Homo sapiens: one gene and its partners. The protein of the gene in region 1 purifies or fractionates together with the protein of each later gene. This does not show direct contact. Each region holds a gene or a part of one and is shown in the gene's direction. Other genes may lie near its edges. The genes, in order: ABCC2, TOMM70, NDUFA10 and RAB31.

Region 1 (4,928 bases):
AAGAGATCCTCTACCACCAAACTCTATCTTGCTAAGCAGGTAAAGTTAACACCACTGTTTCTGAACTCTAATTCCTTGGTGCACAGTAGAGACATTTTCTTGGTGGTTAGTGTTCTCTTCCTTGTCTTTAAGCAGCTGTCCCAGGTGCCATTGTCTCAGGTAGAGCCAGGCTCAAGGTTTCCCTCACGGGTCCCTTGCTGCATTTCTTAAATCAAAGTGGCTTTGATTTTTGCATAAGAATGGTGACTCTTAATTCTTGTGGATATTGGGTTCCCTAAACACAAAGGGCATATAATCAATCAAATTATCTTTATAGCATTTGAGAAATGAACACTGGATCACCTGTCTTTAAACAGCTCTAATAAATCAGTGGACTGTAATTCAGTTGGCATCTACCTCGTGAAAATGAGCTAGATAATGGATCTCCTGCCCCACTGAGGCAATCCAACTATCACTCATCTTCAAAAACTTGGGTCCGAAATAAGGTTTCCATTTTCCCCGCATATTTGATGAGTCAGGATGATCACTCACAGTAGAAGGAGGAGGGGTAAGTGTGCACAGTGACAAGCACGAGTAGGGAAATAATGGAAAGGACAGGTCTGCGGGAGAGGCCCAGGAGGGGCCAGGAGGGGAGGAGCCCTCAGCCAGCTGCACCAACTCACTCAGGGAAGGGTCTTGTGGGAACCCAAGACCCTCATTCGAGGTTGTAAAATTATCTCATAAAATCTTCCATCTGCTTCTTTTCACTATTTTTTTTTCTATCTCTCCTTATTATCATTATTACTACCATTTTAAATGGAGTCTCACTCTGTTGCCCAGGCTGGAGTGCAGTGGCACTATCTCGGCTCACTGCAACCTCCACCTCCTGGGTTCAAGCAATTCTTATGCCTCAACCCCTCCCGAGTAGCTGGGATTACAGGAGCACGCCACCATGTCCAGCTAATTTTTGTATTTTTAGTAGGGCGGGATTTCGCCATGTTGGCCAGACTGGTCTCGAACTCCTGACCTCAAGTGATCCCTCCTGCCTTGGCCTCCCAAAGTGCTGCGATTACAAGCCTGAGCCACCTGCACAGCCTCTGTCAGTCCTTATCTTTCAACAGGTTTTTAGAAAGGCAAACTAGATTCCATTGTTCTACTAGCATACCTAACAATGACTCAGGTTACCTGGAATCTTAAAGGAGGAAAGAGCTTGGCCAAAGGAAGTGGATTTCACCTTGACACTTTGAGGTTGGGGTTGATCGTGGGTTTTATTAGATTCTGATTCAAAAAAGAACAGTCTCAGAGCTTGGGACAGTGTCACTGTCTCCCTTGTTGACCTGAGTGCCCATCACAGGACCTAGCATGTTTCAAACACTCCCACTGGAATACAACATTTGTTGAATGTTGGTGTTAAATGCATTCTGGGAATAGTGGTTGATTCAAGAGTAGGTTAGAGCTGACCTCAGTGGTACATACCTGTAATCCCAGTTCCTCTGGAAGCTAGAAGTGGTAGGATCACTAGAGGCCAGCCTGGCAACATAGTGAGTCCCCATCTCTTAAAAAAATAAAATAAAATAAAAATAAAAAGGAAAGAAACATATGTTAGACTTTGAACATTCTGAACATTAAACAACTCTGAACATTTAATAACATTCTCAGTACCCTTGGAATTGAGTCATTGTTCGAGGTTAGAAGCAATCAAGTTGGGAGGCTTCTTCTACTTTCTGGAGCTTCCAAGAAGAAGCTGGTTAATGAGCAAACCAATATCCCATCCTAATAAAAGCTATTAGTTAACTCTTTTACAAAATACTTTATTGAGATATAATGTACATACCATACAGTTCTCTCATTTAATACAATTCAGGCCGGATGCTGTGGCTCACGCCTGTAATCCCAACACTTTGGGAGGCCGAGGTGGGTGGATCACTTGAGGTCAAGAGTTTGAGACCAGCTTGGCCAACACAGTGAAACCCCATCTCTACTAAAAATACAAAAACATTCGGCTGGGCATGGTGGCTCACGCTTGTAATCCCAGCACTTTGGGAGGCCGAGGTGGGTGGATCACGAGGTCAGGAGTTCGAGACGAGCCTGGCCAACATGGTGAAACCCCGTCTCTACTAAAAATACAAAAATTAGCCAGGCATGGTGGCGGACGCCTGTAATCCCAGCTACTCAGGAGACTGAGGCAGAGAATTGCTTGAACCTGGGAGGTGGAGGTTGCAGTGAGCTGAGATCATGCCACTGCACTCCAGCCTGGGTGACAGAGCAAGACTCCGTCTCAAAAAAAAAAAAAAAAATTAGCCTGGTGCAGTGGCACACACCTGTAACCCCAGCTACTCAGGTGGCTGAGGCATAAGGATCACTTGAACCCGGGAGGTGGAGGTTACAGTGAGCCAAGATCGTGCCACTGCACTCCAGCTTCAGACTCTGTCTCAAAAAAAAAAAAAATGCAATTCAGTTTTTTTCAGTATATTAACACATATGTGCAACCATCACCACAGTCAATTTTAGAACATTTCATTATCTTTAACCCCGTCTCCTCCTTCCCCTTATCCTTAGCAACCGCTAAATCTCTTTTCTGTCTTTATAGATTTCCCTGTTCTAGACATTTCATATGAATGGAATTATATAATATGGTTCTTTTTTGATTGGCTTCTTTCACTTAGCACAATGTGTTCAAGGTTTATCTATGCTGTACCATTGCTATACCATGTATTGATATTTTACCCCTTTTTTTGGGGGGACGGAGTCTCGTTCTGTCGCCCAGGCAGGCTGCCAGCATAGATTCCTGCCAACAGTGTGTTAAAGTGCATGTCCTTGCACCATTGTCAGCATTGAGTTATTTTCAACTTTTATGTGTAAACATGACATCTCACTGAGTTGCTTTGCATTTTTATGAATACTAACGCAATTGTTTTTTTAATTTGTTAAGTGTATTTCATTTGCGAATTGTCTGTTCATATCACTTCCTTATTTTTTAATGGGGGTGTGAGTGTATTTAACTTATCTTTTGAACGGATAATTCTCAGAGGATCACAAAGTTCAAAAAGTACAAAAGGAGCTGGGCATAGTAGCTCATGCCTGTAATCCCAACACTTTGGGAAGCTGAAGTGGGAGAATTGCTTGAGCCCAGCATTTCGAGACCAGCCTGGCCAACTTGGTGAGACCGATCTCTACAAAAAATTAAAAAAATTCACCAGGCATGGTGGCATGTGCCTGTGGTCCCAGCTACTCGGGAGGCTGAGGTGGGAAGATCACTTGACAAGTTCAAGGAGGTCAAGGCTGCAGTGAGCCATGTTCACACCACTGCACTTCAGCCTGGGCGACAGAGGTAGACCCTGTCTCAAAAAAAAAAAGAAAAAAAAGGACAAAAGGGTACCCAGTACTCTAGTCACTCATTCATGTCTTAGTTGGCAACCATTGATACCAGTTCCTCATATCTCCTTCCAGAAATAGCCTGTGCTTTTACAAACAGCTACGTACATATATTTTTTCACACAAATGCTAGCGTCCCATATGTGCTTTTCTGTGTCTTAGAGCTCCTTCCATTTTAGCACATAAAAATCTGCATTTTTCTCTCTTTTTGTGGATATTTTATTCATTTGTACCTAAGCAGCCAAACTCGTACTGATACCACCATGCAGCCAAGGTTACTGAAACCTCTTTGATTAGACTTCAGTCATATCCCACCCCCAAATAGACCCAATAGGTACAATGAAAACCAGTATATCAAGGCAGAATACAGAGCTGTAAAACAAGAAAAATCCTATGAGGGAGGGAGGGAAAAAGGAAGAATTCCGCCACTACCCAGACTAAAATCGAGTTAATATATTCATCTCCACACGTTTTCAGGCTGCATGTTCATGGAGTAATTTAGGAATAAACCTATGATTTGTGAAGCACTGAAATACTTAGTGGTTTGCTGTATTACATCATAGCTTTCCCCAGCAGTTTCCAAGACAGCTTCCAAAAACTGGCAGGAGAATTTCGCTGGAGCTGCATGCAGGACTACCAAGATTCCTCCCCACAGTTATGAAACCGATTTTTCCGGGACTGGTTGTTCTAGTCTTCTGGGTGCCAAGTCTGACTTTTCTGGGAATGGTTGATCCACACTGGAAGGTTTCCAGATGTGTTCCCCAGGCATTCCTGGTGGTAGGAAGAGTAGAGGCCTGGGTATTCTGTAGATGCTGAGCCCTGAGTCATATTGTTGCTTATTCTTTGGTCAGTTGGCTTTCTACCACCTCTTAGCTTTCATTCTCTGTAACTAGCTTGTATGCTGTTTGTAGCTAAGATTCAGGGTATTGGAAAGTTCTTGCAGCTGCTGGAGGCTGCGGTGTTTCTGTCTCTGAAATCCATCATTAATTACACACAGCTGGGCCGGAGAGAACATGATTCTGGTCTTCTGTTTCTTCTCCTGGATCTTATCTTCATTCTTCACTGTGCTCTTCTCTGCAGAAATGTGTAGTTTTACTCTGGGACTAGTGGAAGAATTAGAGCTTTCCTGAATAAATAGATCCACGGAGGAAGGAAGATGAGAGAGCCTCTGAGTGGGACACCTCCTCATATGTCATTTGCAAGGATGGATAACTTTCATCAGGGCCACGAGTCACAGGCATTGGTGAAAGAGTCCCTAGAATTGGATGCTTTAGAATAAGGCAGGCTTTGGAGACAAGCTGGACTCACACTCATGTTATTGAAAAGGAGCGGGGAGGGGCGGGTGCAGTGGCTCACGTCTGTAATCCCAGCACTTTGGGAGGCTGAGGTGGGTGGATCACCTGAGGTCAGAAGTTCAAGATCAGTCTGGGCAACATGGTGAAACCCCATCTCTACTAAAAATACAAAAATTAGCCGGGCATAATGGTTCACACCTGTAATCCCATCTCCTTGGGAGGCTGAGGCAGGAGAATCACTTGAACCTGGGAGGCGGAGGTTGCAGTGAGATAGCACCA
Region 2 (4,928 bases), on another chromosome or scaffold:
TTTAGATAAAGTCATCAGTTTGAAAGAAGCTAATGTGAAGGTACATTAAAAAATGTGTGTGAAGAAATTATTAAATAGAAGGCGATGCCTTTCATTATGTTTTGCCAGATTTTTTAAAGCATTTCAACTGCCATTCTTCAAAGGGCTGTTTTTGTTTTTGAAGAAACTACTCTTAATAATAATGTAGTTGGTGCAGTGAATCTGAAAACATAAATATCAATGATATTTATCTTTATTTAGGAAAGGAAATTTTTTTTTCCTATAGCATCCGGTAGTTTCATCGTCTCCCTGTAGCCACTGCCTACCATATTGGACTGTATTTGGGCAGTGGTAAAGGTGATATGCAATTCTGTAGATAATGCTGTCAGTAACGTGTAATATGTAGCACCAGGTTATAAAACACTTAATAAAAACACATTAATATATTCAGAAAGGTTCTAAAAATAGAATGTATAAATATGCCAAAAGTCTTGCAGTTGTACAGTTGGAACAGCCTTTCATTTTCTAAGTATTCTTAATGTGCTATGTATTACACATTTCATAATTAAGATTCAGGGGCATCTGTTGAATTGTTACATTCTATTCAGTGTAACAAAACAATTTAACCACCAATTAACTATATTACTTATTAGTTTGTTAACATCTCTGTGACCTGTTTCCTCATTGCATTAAATGAACTCTGTAGCCTCTCTCCTCTCCTATATTTGGGGGGGATATAAAAGTTGTTTTAAGACCTAAATATTGTTAAAAGTTTCTTTCAAAATGAGATTTTCAAATTGAAGATACCCTCATAATATTATCTTTAATATTATTTTCTGCTGATTTTCCTGATGATTACAACTGATATATGTTATATGTTTTTGTTATAATTGTGGAGGATGTTATTATTTGTTCTATATGTATGTAGTATTGCTTTGAACAAAATTTTAAAGAAACGCATTGTTTTCATGATCACATGACTTTTAGTGGCAAGTAGTAATGATGCCTACCATATGCCATGCACAAAAATTAACTCAAAATGGATTAGAGCCCTAAATGTAAGAGCTAAAACTATAAAACTGTTAGGATAAAATAGAGGACTAAATGTTTGTTACCTTAGATAAGCAGCAGTTTCTTAGATATGGCACCAAAAGCACAAGCAACCAAAAAAAAAAAATAGATTGGACGTGATCAGACTTCTGTGCTTGGCTGGGGTGGTGGCTCATGCCTGAAAATTAGCCGGGCATGATGGCATGTGCATGTAGTCATAGCTACTCAGGAGGCTGAGATGGGAGGATCACCTGTACCTGGGAGGTCAAGTCTGCGGTGAGCCGTGACTTGTGCCACTGTACTCCAGCCTGGGTGACAGAGATCCTGTCTCAAAAAAAAAAAAAAACTTCTGTGTGAAAAGACACCATCAAGAAGGAGAAAACACATCACACAACATGGGAAAAATATTCACAAATCATATATCTGATTAGGAGCTTGTATCCAGAATAAAGAACTCTTAGAGCTCAACAATAAAAAGACAACCTAAGTTAAAAATGGGCAAAGGATCTGAATACACATTTCTCCAAAGAATATACAAATGACCAATAATAAATGACAAGATTGTTGGCATCATTAGCCATTAGGGAAATGCAAACCAAAACCACCATGAGATGCCACTTCACACCTACTAGGATGGCTATAATCAAAAAGACAATAAGGCTCTAATAAAAAACATTGGACAATAATAAGTGTTTTTGAAGATGTGGAAAATTGGAACCCTCATACATTGCTGGTGGAAATATATTAATACAATGGTGAAGCCCTTTTGGAAATTAGTTTGGCAATTCCTCAGAAACTTACCATATGATCTAGTAATTCCACTCCTAGGTATATACCCAAGAGAATTTAATACGTTCGTTAACACAAAAACTTGTACATGAGAGCTGGGTGTGGAGGCTCACACCTGTAATCCCAGCACTTTGGAAACCCAGGAGTTCTAGACTACCCTGGGTAACGTAGCAAAATCTCATCTCTATTTTTAAAAAGCTTTTTTAAAAACCTTGTATGTGAATGTTCATAGCAGCATTATTTATGGTAGCCAAAAAGTGGAAGCAGCTCAAATGTCCATCAGTTGATGAATGGATAAATAAAATGTGATATCTGTACAATGGAATATTTTTCAGGCATAACAAAAGAATGAAAAACTGATACATGCTACAATATGGATGAACCTTGAAAACATTATGCTAAATCAAAGAAGCCAGACACAAAAGGCTATATATAATGTATGATTCCACTTACATGAAACATCCAGAATATACAAATCCATAGAAATAGAAAATAGGTTGGTGTTTTCTAGGGGCTGAAGAGTAGGAGGTGAGGGGGATGGAGAGTGACTGCTTATTTGTATGTGGTTTCTTTTAAGGGTGATGAAAATGTTCTGGAATTAGATAGTGGTAATCAACACACAACTTAGTGAATACACTAAAAACAGGTGACATGCATACTTTAAAAGGGTGACCTTTGTGATATGTGGATTATAGAAAAAAGCTGTTATTTAAAGAAACTAGATTGGAGGGAAAAAAAAGTAATGATGAACCTTTCCTCACTTGGGGTATATAGCTTCGAGCAAATGCTCTCATCAAAAGAGGCAGCATGTACATGCAACAGCAGCAGCCTTTGCTGTCCACTCAAGATTTTAACATGGCTGCTGACATCGATCCTCAGAATGCAGATGTTTATCACCACCGAGGACAGGTAAGTCTGTTTTCTTACCTAGAGGTCTGACTTGTGGATTGAGCTTTGATACCATTTTTGAGAATTTCTTATGTAATTTTCTTGAGTTTTCTTATATAATTTCTGATAGCTGTGAACAAAGTATCACAGTGGTTTACAGTTTGAATTGGCCTTTGTTTAGTCTGTCTTGAATATTTGTCTTTAATTTTGGTATTTACTTATGAAAAAAGAGTAAAGGAAGGCAAAAACTGTTGGCTTACCAGTTCAAGTTTGTTTTTCTGGTGTTTCTGGTTCATAGGTTTCAATGAGTAAAACATTAATAACATTTAGTAAGCAATGTGAGTTAATTCTAGAATCAACAGGATGATTTTTGTGAGCTTCTTGCTATAAGGAAATAGTCTGGACTGTCCAAATAGTAAAAATAAATATATTTATCTTTTGAAGTTTTATAACAGGCATATTAGTTTTTTAGTAGAAATATATAGTGAAGAAACAGTTTCCAATTACTGCCTCAAGTGGGGAAAACATGGCTTTATAATCAGCTTAACATGGCTTCTTGGAATGCATTATGGTATAAAGTGTGAGCTATGCATTAATAATAACAGAAGAGCCGAAGTTCTTTCTAATGGAGAATTTTACCTAATAGGGTCATGTGTCCTGCCAGGGAAGTGCATTATTAGGCGATTTTGTTGTGTGGACATCATAGAGTGTACTTCTACAGACCTAGATGGTATAGCCTACTACACACCTAAGCTGTATGTTGTAGCCTGTTGCTCCTAAGCTACAAACGTGTATAGCATGTTACTATACCAAATATTATAGGCAGTTATAACACAATGGTAAGTATCTGTGTGTCTAAAACATATCTAAACATAGAAAAGGTACAGTAAAAATGCAGTATTACAATCTTTTGGGACCACTGTTGTATATGTGGTCTGTTGATTGAAATGTAAATATGCATGACTGTATTTCTTTCAGAAGGGTGTTAAGTGTTGAGATAACCTCTTAAAATTCTTGACATTTTGATCTTTACTGGTAGTGTCTGAAGATTAATTTGAAAGGTAATTATCTGATGTCTAACCTGCTTTGATATTAGAATGTACAGGATGTTTAGTTTTCTAGAAGAAGGGGTTTCTTGCTTAATAGTGATCAGAATTGCAGGGCAGAAATGGTTGGCTTGTAGTCCTTTCTATAAGTTGGATACCATTTTTATGTTTTGGAATCTTGCCTTTTAAATTTCAAGATTTTTAAATCACTGTTTCTAGAAAGTAATTATATATTGAATTACTACTACATGCTCAGCATTATGCTGAGGTGTAATAATAGAGATGAGACACTGAACATACTTAACTGGACTAGTTGAATTACATTTATTTACGTATTTTTTTCTTAGCTGAAAATACTCCTTGATCAAGTTGAAGAAGCAGTGGCAGATTTTGATGAATGTATTAGGTTAAGACCTGAGTCTGCTCTGGCACAAGCACAGAAATGTTTTGCATTGGTAGGTACTACTTTCTTTTGTATTTTCCTAAACATCACTTTTATTTTCCAGCGTCAACAAAAATGAGTATCTCATTGTCTACAAAGTCGTCTTTTTCTTTCTTTCCCAAAGGATAACTACTGAGGAAAAAAGGTGCTGATTGATACCTAGCTCTTGTATTTCTCTGGACATTTGTTTGGGTTCATCTTGATAGATGTTTGTCCCTGATTTTATACTTCCCTAAACAGAACTGGTCTCCCTGCTTCATCATAAATCAATATAAAGAGCAAAAACATTTTGAGGAAACACTCTGTAAACATGACACCATGTAACTTGCTCTCTCACCCCTGCTTCATAGAACTGTTTCTTAATATTCAGAAACACAAAGCTCAAAAGGTTGTTTTTTTTTTTTTTTTAAGTAAAAATTTTTCTAGTAAAATAAGATACTTCCAGTTAGCTGTATGGCTGGAGTCGTAAAAGAATTTTCAGTTTAAAGGAAGAAATTATGTCACAAATATATATTATAAATGAAAATGACAAAAATTTTACTAGATTTAAAATTCATTTATTGCAAAGTTCACTTCTTACAAATTAGTATGCCCTCTTCTACAGTATTGAACATCTTGAAATTGTATAGTGGCCATGGAGTCCTAGTTGTACATAACCTTTGGCTCTCTGCTGCTGAGATACCTACTTGGAACCCTTTTGGATGCTGCAGATTATGTTAGCAAATCACCTGTTT
Region 3 (4,928 bases), on another chromosome or scaffold:
GGTCCAGCACTGACCGTGAGCATGCTTTCCTTGGGAAAGCCCAAGGGGTGATGGGGGAGGGCTGAGACCAGATCCTTTGGGGACCATTTCTGGGGTGATGAGACCCCCACTGAGGGATTGAAGCTGAATGATCAGAGGTGCACAGGAGGAAGCAGAGGGGATGTGGGGAGGGTTGGTTGTTGGTGTCACATGTGCTGTGACTCTGATGGGAACTGAGAAGTGACTGTCACGTTTCACCTTTCGGGGGCTGGTGATGTTAGCCAGAGTCGTTTGAGTGCTGGGCTGGGGGAAAGCAGATCATGTTGGCTAAAGGACAGGTGGCATAGAGCAAGGTGGGGACCACCTGAGAAGTGGGTGTACTGACAGGAGTAAGGGTGAGGGTGGGAAGCAGGGTGAGAGCAGACTCGGTGAAGGGAGGTTTCACCTCAGCAGCAGGAGAGACCGGCCTGCTACCGGTCCAGCAGTCAGGAAGCAGACCCGAGGTCCCGTGTGCTCTGCCTGGCTGCGGGTTTGTGTTTGTATGCTCAGGTGAACGGTACTCCACTGGCAGCCTCCGTCCTTTGCTTTGTCACACCTCCTCCTGGGTGGTCTTCCTTGTTCTTTAGCTCGTGCCGTTCCTGACCCTGAGCCAAAGGCTCATCCCACAGTTGCCTCTAGAGTGAGGTTACTAGGAATGCTCACTGGAACTTTTTTTTTTAATTTAATTTTTAAAATTTTTATTTATTTATTTTGAGACTAGGTTAGGAGACTGGCTAATGTTTGTATTTTTGGTAGACATGGGATTTCACCATGCTGCTCAGGCTGGTCCTGAACTCCTGGGCTCCAGTGATCTGCGCCCACCTCGGCCTCCCAAAGTGCCAGGATGACAGGCGTGAGCCACTGTGCCCAGCCCATTTCCTTTAAAGCAAAATAGTTGTCTTTCTGTGGACCCTAGCATGGCCATCTGTCACTTCTGGAAGGTTCCACACGTGAAAAGCTGCAGAGGGGATGGCTTCTCAGCATGGCCTCTCCACATGCACTGGCGTGCACTCTCTGTTGGCTTCTGGGAGGTCGGGTGTGCATGAGCATGTGCAGGTGCAGAGTGCTCTGAAGAGCGGCAGGGTTCCCTTGGGTGGCACGGGCCCTGCGGGTGCCCCCTGGATTATGCATTCTGTGTAGTGATCACTTTAGGAGAATTATTCCTCAGCCTTAGCTGCTTTCAATTTCATGTTGTCACTAAATCTGACTCAGTAGATACTTCTGTGCAGCTGATTATACTACTGAAACGGGATAAATGCAGCTTGATGATTTTCAGCTGAGTTATTTGAAAAATAAAGTATTTAAAGCTGTTCTTTATTCTTCAGAGAAGACCAGACTCTTGTATCTATTATTACTGTGAAGAAATATAGTAGCATGTATACTATATACCTGCAACATATATACTGCAAGTATATGGAATATATTTCAGTTCAAAGATCACTGAACTGTGACCTCCATCTTGCGTGACCTACGTCTTGCCTCAGGAGCAAAAGTGAACCCTTAAATGTGGCTAAGATGTGCTAAAGATCTGTCTTTTAGGATGATTAAGGTCACAGTTTAAATGCTGCTGTTTTACTCTGTGTAAGTAGCTTAATTTCTCTGGGCCTCAGACCTTTGGTTTGTAAATACAGTGGAGGCGACAAGCCCTGTTTTCAGGGTTGTGGGCACCACAGCTGCTGTCTGCACATGCCCCGTGGCACCTGGAGCACAGTCACATGCCATGTGTGTGGTCAGTGCTTAGAACTGTGACCGAGATAGGGTTTGTAGATTGGTACGTGGCTTTGAGAATTGCGTGTATGTTTGCCCTTTTATTCAAGGAGGAGTGTGTTTTGGAAACCCGTGTGGGGACTGGTAGGTGACAGCGCCCCTTTCTCCTATGTGCCAGGTGTGGACCACTACAACGAGGTGAAGAGCGTCACCATCTGCGATTACCTGCCCCCCCACCTGGTGATTTACATCGATGTGCCCGTTCCAGAGGTCCAGAGGCGGATTCAGAAGAAAGGAGATGTAATGCAGTTTTCAATCAAAGGCCAAGCATCTCTATTTTGAATGTAGATCAGCACTAAAAGCCCTGTTTTAATAGCATTTATACTAATTCCTACCAGTCCTCACGAGGAGGGTGACACACACCCTGTTCCCACTTGAGAGAGGGCATCTGCAGGGGTGGAGGGGAGACCCCATGGCTCGGCCTGGTGCCACAGCCTGCGGGCCTGCCGCCCACCAGTGCTCTGCGGTCCCACTGTGGTCCCCGAGTCCCCTCAGCTGTTTAAACTTGGGAGGCTGGTGAGGGCCTCCTGGCAGAGCGTCCTCCATCCCTCTGTCACGTACCTTTCTGTTCTCTGATGAGGTTTTTGTGTCCTATCGTTTTCTTCCACATTGGAAGCAATTTCTAATATCCCTCATCACTTCAATCTATTTAACGCAAATCGTGCCTCTCCCCCTTTTTCTTACTTACCAATTCTAGAACAGTAGAGCAGTGATATCCACACACATCCATTTACTCTTTGTAGTTTTCATTGGATCTTAATTAGGTGGCCTCGAAGCAACGCCTTTTGAAGTGACCCTGTGGCCGTTGGTAGCTCTGTTGGCGGCTTGATGGAGGATCCTGAGATGAAACAAAGACCGTCTTTGCCCTGTGGCGAGTTCTTTGTTTTTTTTTTTTGAGACAGAGTCTCGCTCTGTCACCCAGGCTGGAGTGCAGTGGCACGATCTCGGCTCACTGCAAGCTCCGCCTCCCGGGTTCACGCCATTCTCCTGCCTCAGCCTCCCAAGTAGCTGGGACTACAGGCGCACGCCACCATGCCCGGCTAATTTTTTTGTATTTTTAGTAGAGACGGGGTTTCACTGCTTGTTTAATACTATGTTATTTTTTCCTGGAGGAGAATATGGTCTCCTTTTTGATACTGTGATGAAAATGCAGGGCTACCTGCCTGTTCCTCACTCTGATGCCCATCCTCAGTGCCGGAATTCTTGTAGGTGCTCAGGAAATACCTCTCTGGATGGTGGGTTCTTGTCAGGGCAACAGTAAAGCTCTGGTTATTTTTTGCTGCTCCTGAAAGATCCATGGGACTAACTTTCCTTCTCTGTTGCAATAGTAGAAACAGCGAGATGTCTATGTATGCCTTTCTATTGCCACTCTGGAACTTTTATTGTTTAAGCATATGCTTGTAAGTATGTTGTATAGCTAGACTTCTAAGAACCTTCCATCAAGTGGCAAAAGGAGGGAACTGCAAGTTCAAAATGTTTGTTTCTCAGTGGACTAACTGGACACCTTTGCTTATTATGCTGACATTTATTGAGAAAAACAAAGTCATACATTTAACATTCTCTAGATAATTCTTTTGTTATCTGGGAAAACAGTATTTCAAAAATAATTCTGAGGTCTAAAGTAGAGCTGTCAACTTCTTAATTTTTCCAAGTAAAGTCTTCAATACTGTCATCAGGTAAAATTACCCCATTTTATAAAAGACATCACATTATCAGTAAGTCTGTGTTCTTATTTTGATTTTTATTTCAATGCAGTCTGTGTCTCAGTATTGCACCTTTTGGGAATAACTGATAGGAATATCCGAAAACCATTTCTAGATTCTAAGAAAACAGTCAAAGTGATCAATAACTACATATTTTATCAAGTAACTTCAGGTCAGATTTCTGAGATGGTTGTGTTATGTTGCATGTTATGGGCTTATATTACACTAGAGTTTCTTTTATAATCAGTTAACATTTAATCTTATTCTACTTGGCACATAGCTAATGATAGAGATTTAGAATCATATCACCTCTTTTATACTTTTGTTGATTTCACTCACTCCTCTAATACAGAGCACCTCCTATATGCAAGGCGCCTGTGCCAGGCACCTAGGAGGCTGCAAAGATGAACAAAGATGGTCTCTGCCCAGACACCAAGTCCTTATTGGAAAATAGAACTCCCAATTACTGCCTTTCCCCCTTTTGACAGAGCAATGAAGTGCAGCATTGCCTGTATCATCCTTTCCCTGTGCCCCGTCGCATTACTGGAATTAATACATGTTCAGTAAATATTCTTTGAATGATAGGGTTTTTCTTATTTTGAACAGCTTTAATGAGGTATAATTTATGCTCCATAAAATTCACCCATTTTAAGGGTACGACTGAATGATTTTGGGTAAATTTACCAAGTTGTTGCCACTCTTGCCATAATCCAGTTTTAGAATGTTTTCATCATTTTGTAGGTTGAAACCGCAGGCCTATTCATTTCTTTCTTCCTTCCTCTCTCTCCTGTAAGTGTTGATTGAGCATCCACCCTGTCCTAGACCCTGCTTGGTGCTAGGGACATACCAGTGAGCAGGGTGGATGAGGTCCTCACCCGTGAGCTCATATGCTGATGGGGGAGACCTACAGCAAGCAAGGAGATAAATAAATACATCAAATAGAGGTAAATGATGTGAAGAAAACAAAACGGGCTGAGAAGATAGTGTGAGACTGTAAGGAGTTTTAAATTTTAAAACTTGCTACTCATAATTAGATATTCAAGTTTCTGAAATTCGCATAGTGCATTTCAGATGATGAGAGAGGTGACAGCCGTAGAAAGTGGGAGAAGTGGTTGCGGGGAGATGGGTGAGCGATGGAGGTGGCGAGCAAGTTGGAGAGATGCAGGGAGAGTCAGGTGACAAGAAGAGAGTGTGCTGAGGACAGATGGCGGACAGACAGGCCGCTGCCCCCAATTTTTGGTGCTCTTTCATTCCTGCACTCAGGCACGAGGCAGACAGGAAAGACAGGCAGTGCTGCTTCGTAACAGGCATCTTTCTTGCCCTAAGTATACATCTTAGAATGTGTGGAGAAAGTCACGCTATGGGAGCACTTGGGCAGGCTCAGGTGTTCACTGTAGTAGAAGGAGAATGACTCTAGCTGATGTTGGGACCCTTTGCTGT
Region 4 (4,928 bases), on another chromosome or scaffold:
CACTGTTTTAGTGAGTGTGATATATCCTTTAGGTCTGCTCTAAGGCCACAGCCATGAGAAAATAGGAAACTTTACATTTTAAGATGCTAGGACAGTGGTCCCCAACCTTTTTGGCACTAGGGATCAGTTTTGTGGAAGACGATTTTTCCACAGATGGGAGCAGGAGGCGGGGGATGGTTTTAGGATGAAACTGTTCCACGTCAGATCATCAGGCATTAGTTAGATTCTCATGAGGAGCATGCAACTTAGATCCCTCACATGCGCAGTTCACAACAGGGTTTGCACTCCTGTGAGAATCTAATGTCACCATTGATTTGACAGGAGGCAGAGCTCAGCTGGTAATGCTCACTCACTGTTCACCTCCTGCTGTGCAACCTGGTTCCTAACAAGCCATGGGTCAGTACCGCCCCAGGGGTTGGGGACCTCTGTGCTAGAACGCAAAAGCTTTTGAGTTCACTAATTGGAAAAGACCTTTAAAATTTAATTAAGCCTGGTAGATAACGCTTATTTGGTGTTTGCATGCCTGTGCAGATTTTACACTTTCATTTATCTTAGTTTTTATCACTTATGACATGTGTTTGAAAATGGAATAGGTATTCATTCATTCAGCCATTCACCATTTGTGGAGTGTTTCTTTTATGCTGGGAGCTGTGGGTGGCTGCATGTAGACAGGATGGCAGTGATTGTTGCCTTCCCAAAGACACGAACACACCAGCAGTGAGCTCTGTGGCATTGACTGGATTCTTATTATGGTGCTTACCATGGCCCACCATGCGGAACAGAAGTAGTGTGTTGTGATGATGAGAAATACTGACTGTCATCCCGCTTAGTAGACTTGACGGCATGGGAGGGACAGAAAGTTCTTGCTCCAGGTCTGTCTTGGGTACCTGCTGTCGCACAGTGCTGTGCTAACTCTGCTAGAGACAGAAAGTAGGTCAGGCAGGGATCTGGTCCCTGCCTGGGATGGAGAGGCTTCTGGTTGGTTCCTGTGCCACACGCACAGGAACACGGCCCTTGCTGATGGGTGTGAGGCAGGAGGTGTTGCATGTATAGTGGGATATGGTGGGAGTCAAATACAGCGGGGGCTGTGAAGTGGGGAGTTGGGAAGGTTTCTTGGAGTAGGAAGGATTTGAACAGTGCCTAAAGGGACAGGGAAGGAAAGGTGGGTGTGCACTCCAGGCCCTGGCAGGGGGCTTGGATCTCACTGTATTTTCTGGCACAGTCCCTCCCCTCCCAGCCTGCCCACTCTTCCATTGACACCCCCTACTCCCTGTCTCTCTAGCACTGGGTCTTTTATTTTTAATTCCCTTTGCCCCCTTTTTTTTTTTTTGAAAAATTTAAAACTTACACAGCAGTTGAAAGGACTATGAATGTCCCCTAGATTCAGCAGGAGTAACATTTTGTCACTTGTCCTTTGTCTCTCTCTCTCTCTTTTTTTTTTTTTTTTTTTGACATGGAGTCTCGCTCTGTCAACCAGCCTGGGGTGCAGTGGCACAATCTCGGCTCACTGCAACCTCCACCTCCTGGGTTCAAGCGATTCTCTTGCCTCAGTCTCCTGAGTAGCTGAAATCACAAGTGTGCAACACCATGCCCAGCTAATTTTTGTATTTTTTTTAGTAGAGATGGCGTTTCACCACGTTGGCCGGCTGGTCTCGAACTCCTGGCCTCAAGCAATCTGCCTGCCTTGACCTCCCAAAGTGTTGGGATTACAGGCGTGAGCCACTGTGCCCAGCCTGTCTTTCTGTTTATAAATAATACTAAACATTTTTTTTTGAACCATTTAAAAGTAAGTTGCAGACATGGTGGCACTTTACCCACAAATACTTCAGTATGTGTCTTTTAGGAAAAAGGGCATTCTCCTATGTAACCACAATACTATGCTCCCATCCCCTAAATTGAACATGAACACAGGGTATCAAACATATGGTCCATGTTCAGATGTTTCCAGTTGCCCCCAAATGTCCTTTCCAGCTATTTAAAGGGTCCAGTTAGAGATCATGTATTTCATTTGGTTGTCCTGTCTCTTTAGTCACTGTGCATCTAAAACAGTTCCCCTTCTTTTTTCCCCATGACTCTGGCATTTTTGAAGAAGCCAGGCCAGTTGTCTTGTAGGCGGTCCCAAGATCTGGAAGTGTCTGATTGTTTCCTCATTACTTCTTTCAGGTTCATTGTTTGGGTGAGAATACAACGCAGGCGATCTCGAGTGGTCTTATTTTTTAACGTGATCATGTATAATATTAAAATACTCTTTCCCACTTATCTCTGTGGCATTTATTTAAAAAAATTTCTTAGCTTCTGCAAGTGTCAGGCAGTGGTGTGTCTGACACAGAACTTTGACCTCTTGGAGCCTACATTTTAGCAGGAAGGTAGGGAAAATAAATCATATGGTCTGTTAGGAGGTGGTATGTGCTTTATGGGAAAAGAAGGCAAGAGGTGGGAGTGGGCTGGCGGGGGTGACAATTGAGTGTGCTCAGTGTCTTCAGAGCCCAGGATGGAGGCGTCTGCCTCTTATTTACCCGGGGATTGACGCTGGTCCTACAGCTTCCTCCTGTGGTAAGCTGCTGAGCTGTGGAGAGGAGAGTATGTCCTGAGGAGCCAGAGTGGTCTTTTTTGTTACCTAACTTTGTCAGCAGAAATGAGGAAAAGAAAAATGGAATTTTTATTTGAGACGGAGTCTTGCTCTGTCACCCAGGCTGGAATGCAGTGGTGTGATCATAACTCATTATAGCCTCGAACTCCTGGGCTCAAGTGATCCTCCTGCCTCAGCTTCCTGAGTAGCTGGGACTACAGGCGTGCCACCACACTTGGCTAATTTTCTTTCTTTCTTTCTTTCTTTTTTTTTTGGTAGAGATGGGGTCTTGCTGTGTTGTCCAGGCTAGTCTTGAATTCATGGGCTCAAGCGATCCTCCCACTTCAGCCTCCCCAAAAATATTGGGATTACAGGTGTGAGTCACTTTGCCCAGCCAAAAAGTGGGCTTCTTTTTTGTTTTTTTGTTTTTTGAGACAGGGTCTTACTCTGTCATCCAGGCTGGAGTGCAATGGTGCGATCACAGCTCACTGCAGCCTCAACCTCCCAGTCTCAAGTGATCCTCCTGCTTCCGAAAAGTCGGATTTAACATCAGGTCACCAAATGGGTTTTTCACTGTGGGATCTTTTGATGAGTTTTTTTCGAATACATTTCCTTGGTTTAGATGTCTCAGACCTGCTTGAATTCTCTAGAAGTCATGAATGTGGCTTCTGTTTGCACCATATTTAACCCAGAAGATATCTTAGGCTACTTTCAGTTCCCCCAGAGGTGCCTAGGAGACTCGAGTTATCAGAAAATTGAAGGGGCCTGCAGGACAGCAAACAGAACACAGGGAGGTCATTTCCCTTCTATTTTCTCTTCTTTGAACAGGATGTCACAGAGAGCTAGATGCCTTTCTATCAATGTATTTTTTTTTGAAGAAAAGGATACCTGCATTCTCCAGGACTACTCTCTGCCTTCATGGAATCACTTTCCTAACTAGGATCTGCAAATATAATGTGTCGCTCTGGGAGGGAAGGACAGAGGGAGAAAGTGGAGAGAAGAAGAGAGAAAGAGGAGAAGAGAAGAAGAAAGACAGAGAGACACGCACGTACACACACAGACACACGTACACACAGTATGTGGAGTATCACATAAAATTTGCCCACTGCTGGCAAGGAGAAAGAGCAAGGTGTTCTTGTGTGTTTGTTTGTTTTTTAAATAATCAGATTATTGGCCAGGGCATTTACATTTATGGCAAGGTTAATTAAGAAAGTTTTATTTATTTACTTTTTATTTATTTTATTTACTTTTTTTGAGACCGGGTCTTGCCCAGGCTGGAGTGCAGTGGTGCAATCACAGCTCACTGCAGCCTTGACCTCCCGGGTTCAAGCAATGCTTCTACCTCAGCCTCCCGAGTAGCTGGGACTATAGGTGCCCACCACCACACTTGGATAATTTTTTTGGTTTCTTTTGTAGAGATGGGGCTTGCCACGTTGCCCAGGCTGGTCTTGAACTCCTGGGCTCAAGTGATCCACCTGCCTCAGCCTCCCAAAGTGCTGGGATTAGAAAGTGTTTTTTAAAGTTCATCTCATGGCATCAATACTACGTAGTTAATTTATACTTCATTTTAGCAGCTAAAATATTTTCTGAATTTTTTTGTTTGTTTGTTTGAGATGGAGTTTTGCTTTTGTTACCAAGGCTGGAGTGCAGTGGTGTGATCTCGACTCACTGCAGCCTCTGCCTCCTGGGTTCAAGCAGTTCTCTTGCGTCAGCCTCCCAAGTAGCTGGGATTACAGGCATGCGCCACCATGCCTGGCTAATTTTGTATTTTTAGTAGAGATGGGGTTTCACTATGTTGGTCAGGCTGGTCTTGAACTCTTGACCTCAGGTGACCCACCTGCCTCGGCCTCCCAAAGTGCTGGGATTACAGGCATGAGCCACTGCAACCAGCCTTATTTTCTGAACTTTCATAATAAACTTCTAAAGAGCTAATTTTTTAAATTATCAAGTAGTTTAGTCTTTTTGGGCTGTTATAGTAAAGCACCATAGACTGGGGGCTGAAAAACAACAGAAATGTATTTCCTTCAGTTCTGGAGGCTGAAAGTCCACCATCAGGGTGCCAATACGGGCAGGTTCTGGTGAGGGCTCTCTAAGGGGTTGCAGACTGAGTCTTCCCATTGGGTAAGGGAGCTCCCTGGGGCCTCTTCCATAAGGGCACTAATCCCATTCATGAGAGCTCTAGCCTTCTGACCTAATCACCTTCCAAAGGCTCTACCTCCTAGTATTGTCACTTTGGAGGTCAGGATTTCAACATACAAATTTTGGGGATCACAAATATTCAGACCATAACATAAAGTGATGCATGCTAATTACAATTTGAAGGCCAGGCATGGTGACTCACGCCTGTAATCCCAGCACT

What was found.
Region 2: the proteins of ABCC2 (region 1) and TOMM70 fractionate together in Homo sapiens (co-fractionation; one large-scale study listed by BioGRID). This does not show direct contact.
Region 3: the proteins of ABCC2 (region 1) and NDUFA10 fractionate together in Homo sapiens (co-fractionation; one large-scale study listed by BioGRID). This does not show direct contact.
Region 4: the proteins of ABCC2 (region 1) and RAB31 fractionate together in Homo sapiens (co-fractionation; one large-scale study listed by BioGRID). This does not show direct contact.

What each region holds. Positions count from the first base shown.
Region 1 is NC_000010.11:99,784,743-99,789,670, forward strand, and holds part of ABCC2 (ATP-binding cassette sub-family C member 2), read left to right. Parts: coding exon 1-39; intron 40-4,928. UniProt on the Homo sapiens protein: ATP-dependent transporter of the ATP-binding cassette (ABC) family that binds and hydrolyzes ATP to enable active transport of various substrates including many drugs, toxicants and endogenous compound across cell membranes.
Region 2 is NC_000003.12:100,372,817-100,377,744, reverse strand, and holds part of TOMM70 (mitochondrial import receptor subunit TOM70), read left to right. Parts: coding exon 1-40; intron 41-2,592; coding exon 2,593-2,727; intron 2,728-4,099; coding exon 4,100-4,207; intron 4,208-4,928. UniProt on the Homo sapiens protein: Acts as a receptor of the preprotein translocase complex of the outer mitochondrial membrane (TOM complex). Recognizes and mediates the translocation of mitochondrial preproteins from the cytosol into the mitochondria in a chaperone dependent manner.
Region 3 is NC_000002.12:240,011,836-240,016,763, reverse strand, and holds part of NDUFA10 (NADH dehydrogenase [ubiquinone] 1 alpha subcomplex subunit 10, mitochondrial isoform 1 precursor), read left to right. Parts: intron 1-1,903; coding exon 1,904-2,025; exon of another isoform or gene 2,026-4,928. UniProt on the Homo sapiens protein: Accessory subunit of the mitochondrial membrane respiratory chain NADH dehydrogenase (Complex I), that is believed not to be involved in catalysis. Complex I functions in the transfer of electrons from NADH to the respiratory chain.
Region 4 is NC_000018.10:9,714,098-9,719,025, forward strand, and holds part of RAB31 (ras-related protein Rab-31), read left to right. Parts: intron 1-2,163; exon of another isoform or gene 2,164-2,259; intron 2,260-4,928. UniProt on the Homo sapiens protein: The small GTPases Rab are key regulators of intracellular membrane trafficking, from the formation of transport vesicles to their fusion with membranes.